Linked DNA regions of Homo sapiens. The protein of the gene in region 2 interacts with the protein of the main gene of each other region in a pairwise test. Each region holds a gene or a part of one and is shown on either strand. Other genes may lie near its edges.

The links.
Region 1: the proteins of SKAP2 (region 2) and FYB1 interact in a protein complementation assay, tested with the Homo sapiens proteins (one study listed by BioGRID).

Annotation. Positions count from the first base shown.
Region 1 is NC_000005.10:39,217,668-39,221,420, reverse strand, and holds the start of FYB1 (FYN-binding protein 1), read left to right. Parts: upstream 1-1,857; 5' UTR 1,858-1,978; intron 1,979-3,753. UniProt on the Homo sapiens protein: Acts as an adapter protein of the FYN and LCP2 signaling cascades in T-cells. May play a role in linking T-cell signaling to remodeling of the actin cytoskeleton. Modulates the expression of IL2. Involved in platelet activation.
Region 2 is NC_000007.14:26,738,944-26,742,696, reverse strand, and holds part of SKAP2 (src kinase-associated phosphoprotein 2), read left to right. Parts: intron 1-325; exon of another isoform or gene 326-355; intron 356-2,732; coding exon 2,733-2,810; intron 2,811-3,753. UniProt on the Homo sapiens protein: May be involved in B-cell and macrophage adhesion processes. In B-cells, may act by coupling the B-cell receptor (BCR) to integrin activation. May play a role in src signaling pathway.

The DNA.
Region 1 (3,753 bases), on a different chromosome or scaffold from region 2:
ACACAACATAACACTGATTTTTAAAAGTTAAATGTCTGTCCTCCTGTTCCCTTCTTTATAACCATCTAGCAAAATCCAGTGAAGATGGGGTTGTCTCCTGTGTTGGGGGCCAGGTCCTTCTATCTCCTGGCTCTGTCATGCCTAGAGTATTACCTTAGTCATCACTGGATCAGAAGAGCTCAGGCCCCCACAGCATCCCAGCCAGCTGGGAGGGGAAAGCATGATGGGGCCCTCTTTTAGGACACACCAAGAAGCTACATAGATCCCTTCTGCATAGATCCCATTGACTAAAACTTAACCACATGGCCAAATCTAATGTCAAGAGGGACTAGAAAATGCCTTATCCTGTGTAGCTGTGGGCCAGGTAAAAAGCCAGAGATCTCTTAGGATAGAATAAGCATCCTAAACTTTTGGCAAACTTTTTCTGCAGAGGACTAGATAGTAAATATTTCAGGCCATATACGGTCTCAGCCATGTCATCATCATTGTTGTCATCATCATTGTTACCATCATTGTCTTCTTTTGCTTCTTCTCCCTTTTCTTACAATTCTTAAAAAATGTAAATTCTTAGCCTGAGGTCTGTACAAAACATTCCACAGGCCAGATTTGGCATGCGGGCCATAGTTTGCTGACCCTACTACTCTATAAGAAGGGAAAATCATACGGGGAGGAAAGTGACCATCTCTGGCATAACGTCTGTAAGATTATAAGCCACTGAGTGGAAAATCCTTGTCTTCTCCATCTTTCTAGTCTTGGCCAGTGCTTGACCCACACAGTAAGTGTTTGATGTTTATGAATGAATGAGTAGAAGGAAGGTGGGGGAGGTTAATTTCACAATCACAATTTGTTAAAATCTCATTTAGTCCCAATGGTAGCCTCTGTTTTGGGGGGTTTCTTTTCTTTTCTTGTCTTTTCTTTTCTTTTTTTCTCTTTTCTTTTTTGAGTTTCTTTCTTTCTTTCCTTCTCTTTATTTTTCTTTCTTTCTTTCTTCTTTTTTTTTTTTCCTTCAGACAGGATCTTGCTCTGTTACCCAGGCTGGAGTGCAATGGTGGTGCAATCATAGCTCACTGAAGCCTTGAACTCCTGTGCTCAAGAAATCCTCCCACCTCAGCTTCCCAAATGTCTGGGGCTACAGGCATGCACCATCACACTTGGCTAATTTTTTTTTTATTTTTGTAGAGACAGGGTCTCACCATGTTGTCAAGACTGGTCTTGAACTCCTGGTCTCAAGCAATCCTCCTGCCTCAGCCTTCCAAAGTACCGGGATTACAGGCATGACCCACTACACTCAGCCCCACTGGTGGTCTTTTCACATGGATTATCATCTAAATACTCCATTTCTTCCAGCCTCAAGAATAGTCTAACAGAGAGCCGACAGAGTGAGTCTAGTGGGCTTTCCACACATGAGTGACCACTCTTCAGTTGATATGGTCAAGCACACCACTTTACCTCCTGACCTCAGGTGCAATTAGCTTCCAAATATTCCACATGCTCCAGTGGACCTTTCTAATTGTAAGCATCCCCCTTTGGCCCCCATTGCAGGTGACACTCCTGGGTGTGTGGAAAGATTATGGGTCCAAAGAACTTACAGCTTCTTCCTCTTGAATAAACATGGTGGCAGGCAGGAGAATCTTGTTTTGGTTTTACCCTTTTAAATATCACATGCTTGGTGGGAATGTTAGCAGAAGTATCCAGGCTGAACAGACACTTTTAAGTTCCCCTTTCTCCTCCTTATTACTCAATATCCTGAGGGCATAATAGAACTTTTCTTGTCTAAGTTTGCCTGGTCAGGGGAGGGAGGTGTGGCTCACTCAACCACTGACCGGGACAAAACCCTGCCAGGCATCAGAAAGCTCCGCAGTTCTTGAGTTCCACATGCAGAGCAGATGCGACAGCTAGAAGTGAGTAGGGCCCAGACCCTGGCCCAGGAAGATCCACTAAAGGAGGCCATCCTTCCGCCTTCTTCTGCAGGAGTCAGGTAACAGCTATGCCTAGGTTTCTTCTTTCAAATAAATGTGTAATTTTTTATAGCAGGAAAAAAGCACCACTTCCAAATTCTGGCAGCACAGACTGTGCTAGCTGAATAACTGAAGGAAACGCATGTTCTGTTGGAAAATAGCAAAAGAGATGAACAGGAGACACTAAAACTCAGCCTCATGGTAGCCAAAAGGATGATAAGCAGATAAAAATGTGGCCGGGAACGTGTCTGTCACTTGCTCTTTCGTAACTGGATAAGGCCTCTCATGTGTTCTTGTTGGAACCTCTGGTGCCACTAGCGTTAAATAACGTCTTGCAGTGAAACCAGAAACAAGGTTTTATTGCCAACAGAGCTGGGCACAGATGGTTTATTTCATCCTGGTTCCTAACAAATATGTGTCCATCCTTTTGATGAGAAAGAGTAACTTTCAATTTCCTCCAAACCTGGCAGGAGGTGAGGATTCACATGAGATTTCTACATAGACTAAAGAAAGGGACTATACTGCCATGAATTATGCCTTCTCAGAAGGAATCCTGGCAAACTGGATAAATGATGACAAACAGCTGCAGATCAGCCAAGGAGGCCTTTCAAAGCAACCAGCAACTCCAAATTTTCCTCGGAGCCTTTGGCTGTCTTGTATACATTGCTGATTCTTCTGAAAAATTCACAAGGTCTTTTCCCCCCATTTAACTTGATTTGCAGGGAAGTAATTAATAGAAATGGGCCTCTGACTCTGCCTTCTATTAGCTGTGTGACTTTGGGAGAGCCACTTAACCTCTCTGTGTCTCAGTTTTCTCATCTAAACATGGGGATAATAATAGAACTCATCTCATGGAGTTGTTGAGGGGATAAAACTATATACACTTTTTGAGTACTAATGTAAAATAATAATTAATATTCACCATTTTAAATATTTTTTCATTAAATACAAATAATTCTGCGTGGGAAACAGATGGGCTTATCACCGGAAGGGTGAAGTTGTGGCTGTGATTTTCTGCCCATGCTATGGGAATGCCACCGGAGGTTTTAGGTAGAGTAAAACGTCCCCATGCAATGTGAGATACACACACTTCAAATAGTCCGATACCTTAAGAAATTAATCATAAGTGATAGGTGAGGGGGAGGAGGATAAGGGTGCTCTTTCCAATAAAACCACATGTTTTATGATGTACCATTAAAGGCGATCCTGAATATCAAAGGCGTTATGGTGCACTTAAGGCACCCCGTGGAAAAGTTGACCATCCGTTTCAAAAAGGAAAGGCTAAAAAGGTTTCCATTTCCCTTGAGAAATTATTGTAAAGGTTGAAATCCACACTGCCTGACTGTCATGTCCATTATTTGTTTACTACCATTGGGCTTCAAATTCCCCCCAGCTTCTGCTGGAGTCCAGAGGCTTGGAAGCTCGCAGCAGCTGATTTCTGGTGCAATGCTGCACCTTGCCAAGTTACGGCTGCTTCATAGAGCAATCACACTGACATCTAGTGGTCTAAAGAGTAAGTGCAGGCGGTGGCTTTGAAGCTTTTACCAGCCTCAATGTGCTTTAAAAACCACATTTTCCACCATTTACACAATACGTTAACAAGAGAGAGAGATCAGGGATGTAGAAATGATATTTCATTTGTCTGAGGTGTTACTAGAGGCTGCTCTACAGGAACATTTCTAAAAACAAGAAAGTGAAGAGAGTGAACCGTGGCTCGCTGGCGGGTTTGGGCTGTGGTTCCAGGGGTTGCGGTTAAGACTGTGACTCCAGAATCAAGATCCTGAGCTTGAAGGTG
Region 2 (3,753 bases):
GGATATTGGACAAACAGCAATAAAGGTTTAGAAAAATGAAATTTCAGTTAAAAAAAATGTACTCCCCCACTCCCCAGGGAAGAAATCAAAGATTTTATATTAGAAACATGAATTTAGAATTCAGAACAAGTATTGCTTATGACATCAAATTTTATTGTGATGTATCAGGTGGAAATTTAGTCAACACTTTTCTTAAAGCAAAAGACTCAGGCTATGTGTATATTGAACGCTAGTAAATTCTAATTTCCCTTCTCCTTTTCCTTTTCCCCCACTTCCTCTCCCCTCTCCCTTCTTCCCATCTCTCTCTGTCTCCTTTTTGACCAGTAACATTTTAGAGTTGAAAGCTATGCTAAAGGTACCCATTTCTTTTCAGAATAATTTAACTTTTCTTAAGATTTTGTGAGCATCCATTCCTTATGTAAAGAGCATTTATTATGCCCAATGGAAGTGAGAGGGTTGTGGGACTACCCCTTAATGAGACCAGATCATTCCACAATTATCCACTTTAGATTAGTGGTTCACCAGGACTTGTTTACAGAGATAAGATTTCTGTTTGTAATTTTTGTTTTATGTACAAAATCCTATAATAAATAATTTATACCTTTATATGTACCAAGTTTATTTTGAAAAAAACTGGATACATTTATTGAACAGCTATTAAAATATGTACACTGACTTTCCCTAAAATTTCATATACATTTCAAAATCAGGGCTCTATTTTAAATATGTTTTAATGATACTGTGTGGTGTTTACTGGGTGAAGTTGATCCACCAAGGAGCTGAAATTAGTGCTCTAATTTTAAGCTTTATTTCTTAAGAAAAAATATCCATGACTTTATCACTACTGTGATCCCCATGGTATTAAAAAAAAAAACTGGTAAAATTAGGTGATGAGTTTGTAAATAATAAACTTCCTATCAAACCCATTCTTTTTTTTAATTTTTAATTTTTGTGGGTACACAATAGGCAAATTTATGGGCATATTGTATGTTTTGATACAGGCATACAATGCATGATAATCACATCAGGATAAATGAGGTATCCATCACCTCAACCATTTATTCTTTCTCTGTTACAAAGAATCCAATTATATTTGTTTAGTTATTTCATTTTATTAATTTATTTATTTATTTATTTATTTATTTATTTATTTATTTAGAGACAGGGTCTCACTCTATTACCCAGGCTGGAGCGCAGTGGCACAATCATGGCTCACTGCAGCCTTGACCTCTTGGGGGATCCTCCCACCTCAGACCCCCTTCCCCCCACCTCTACCCTCCTCCTCCACTGGCTGGGACTGCAGGCGCGTATACCACTACACCCAGTTATTTTTAAATTTTTCGTAGAGATGGGGGTCTCACTGTGTTACCCAAGCTGGTGTCAAACTCCTGGGCTCAAGCGACCCTCCTTCCTTAGCCTCCCAAAGTGCTGGGATTGTAGGCATGAGCCATTGCACCCGGCCACTTAGTTATTTTTAAATGTACAATAAATTATTGTTGACTATAGTCACTCTGTTGTGCTATCAAATACTAGATCTTATTCATTCTAATTACATGTTTGTACTCAAACACATTTTCTATCCTAAGTTGTACTGAAACTATTTCCACTGGATGTATTCCATACAAACTTTCTTTTGATTGGTTGTTTTCACTTGCTAGAGTTCTAGTAAAATGCTGAGGATAACTATTATATTTCTTTTCTTTTCTGTTTTCGTTTTTTTCTCTTTTTTTTCCCAGGCTGGATTGCAATGGCGTGATCTTGGCTCACTGCAACCTCTGCCTCCTGGGTTCGAGTGATTCTCCTGCGTCAGCTCCCAAGTAGCTGGGATTACAGGCACCCGCCACCATGCCTGGCTAATTTCTTTTGTAGTTTTAGTAGAGACCAGGTTTCACTGTGTTGGCCAGGCTGGTCTCGAACTCCTGTCCTCAAGTGATCCACCCGCCTCGGCCTCCAAAAGTGCTGGGATTACAAGCGTGAGCCACTGCGCCCGGCAGATAACTATTATATTTCTAATGAAGTTTATAAAAATATTGAACACTTGTAAAATTGAGTAACCTATAATCCATGACCGTGAATATACAATTTCTAATCAACTTAACTTTTGCTTGATTTAAAAACTTTTTTTAGGGATCCAGTATTTGTTTATAATAGTTTTATCAGATCTGTCTAGTTTTAGACTCTTAAATGCCCTATAAAAACCTAAAGCATACTCACTCAGTGGAATGTCCATAACATTTCTCTGAATACAAACACAGAGAATATTTGCTGTGGGCTCAGAGAAACAAGTTTCAGCATTTGATTCGGAAAAGCATTTTATGTTTTACTTGGTAGGAATAGGGATTATGCAGGAAAGAGTCAATATGTATTGAAATTTTTAAAGAGTTAATTCAATATAAATATAACGAAGCTATGATTTATTTGAAATTCTTAACCTCTCTTTCAGGGATTTATTGCATTTATTTATAATAGTTTCTCAGTCCTGTATTTTGGGAGGCTATAATAACATATAGGAGTACAGAACTTTTTTTTTTTTTTTTTTTTTTTTACTTTTGAGACTTTTAGGAGGAATAGAGGGGATTAATCTAGGGAATGGATCTGAAACAAAGCTAATAGACTTAGATTTAAACAATTTCAGTAATTAAAAGCACACTGAATCTAATGAGATCTGGCACTTGTTTATTCTGAAATGGATTACCCACTGCTTTTTTTTTTCTCTCCCCAACTTCTCATAGGAGCCCAGTTTCCTCCAATTGCAGCACAAGACCTTCCTTTTGTTCTAAAGGCTGGCTACCTTGAAAAACGCAGAAAAGGTAAACTGAAGGTTCTAATGAAAAATGTAAAAATAATTTCATCCTTAGATAGAACATGTTTGTAGTATACATGTGGAGGCAGTATTCGTTTTAGGTGATTAAAGAGTTTAAAGATTGTAAGAAAATCTGGATGACATTATCCAAACCACAAAATATAGCTCTTAGCTTTAAATAATTTTTAATAAGAAAACATTAGGTTAGGTTTTTAGTTGTCAACCTTGGTTATTTGTAAATGATTCAGGAGCTGTTTCCTGCCTCTCAAAGGAAAGCTGCAGGCCATGACTGTATTCTCAAAGGTGGGATTTCTCACCAGTATCTCAATGGGCTGAGCAGCAGGTTCTCCTATGCCCAAACTGGCATGCACCATGGTTCAGATCAAGCCTGGAGTTTTGTCTGCCATTGTCTATTATTCATTTCAGTGTTCCTCTCCATTGGCTATGATAATTGGGAGTTGACCATATGGTCTCACTCTTTCAACACCAATATTTAATGGAAATGAAATATGGAGGTGGTTTTATAATATGAGAAATGAAAAGCAGACAGTCTTTTCATTACCATTCTGCTTATCTCTCTTGTAGTCCCTTTAGGCCTTTCTATTTATATTTCATTTTGCTTTTCTTAGCTTTCTTAGCTGAATTTTAAAACTGAAAGAGATAACAGAAATAATCTAGGTTAGCTCCTCCCCTTCTTTTTATAACAGATGAGAAAATGAGACCCAGATGGATCAATTATCTCAAGACTGTATAGTCAGATACCTTTTTGACTGTCCCTGTCAGAAAACTTTGTTAGCCATGCTGTTGATCCCATAAGTATGGCAGCCCCATAGCTACTTTACTTTATTCCCTTTAGCTGTGTTGGTTTGTTGTTGTTTGGTTTTTTGTCTCTTGGAAAAGAAGATACAAATTAGTCACACAATGTTAGAGCTCAGAGGAATCTTAGAAAT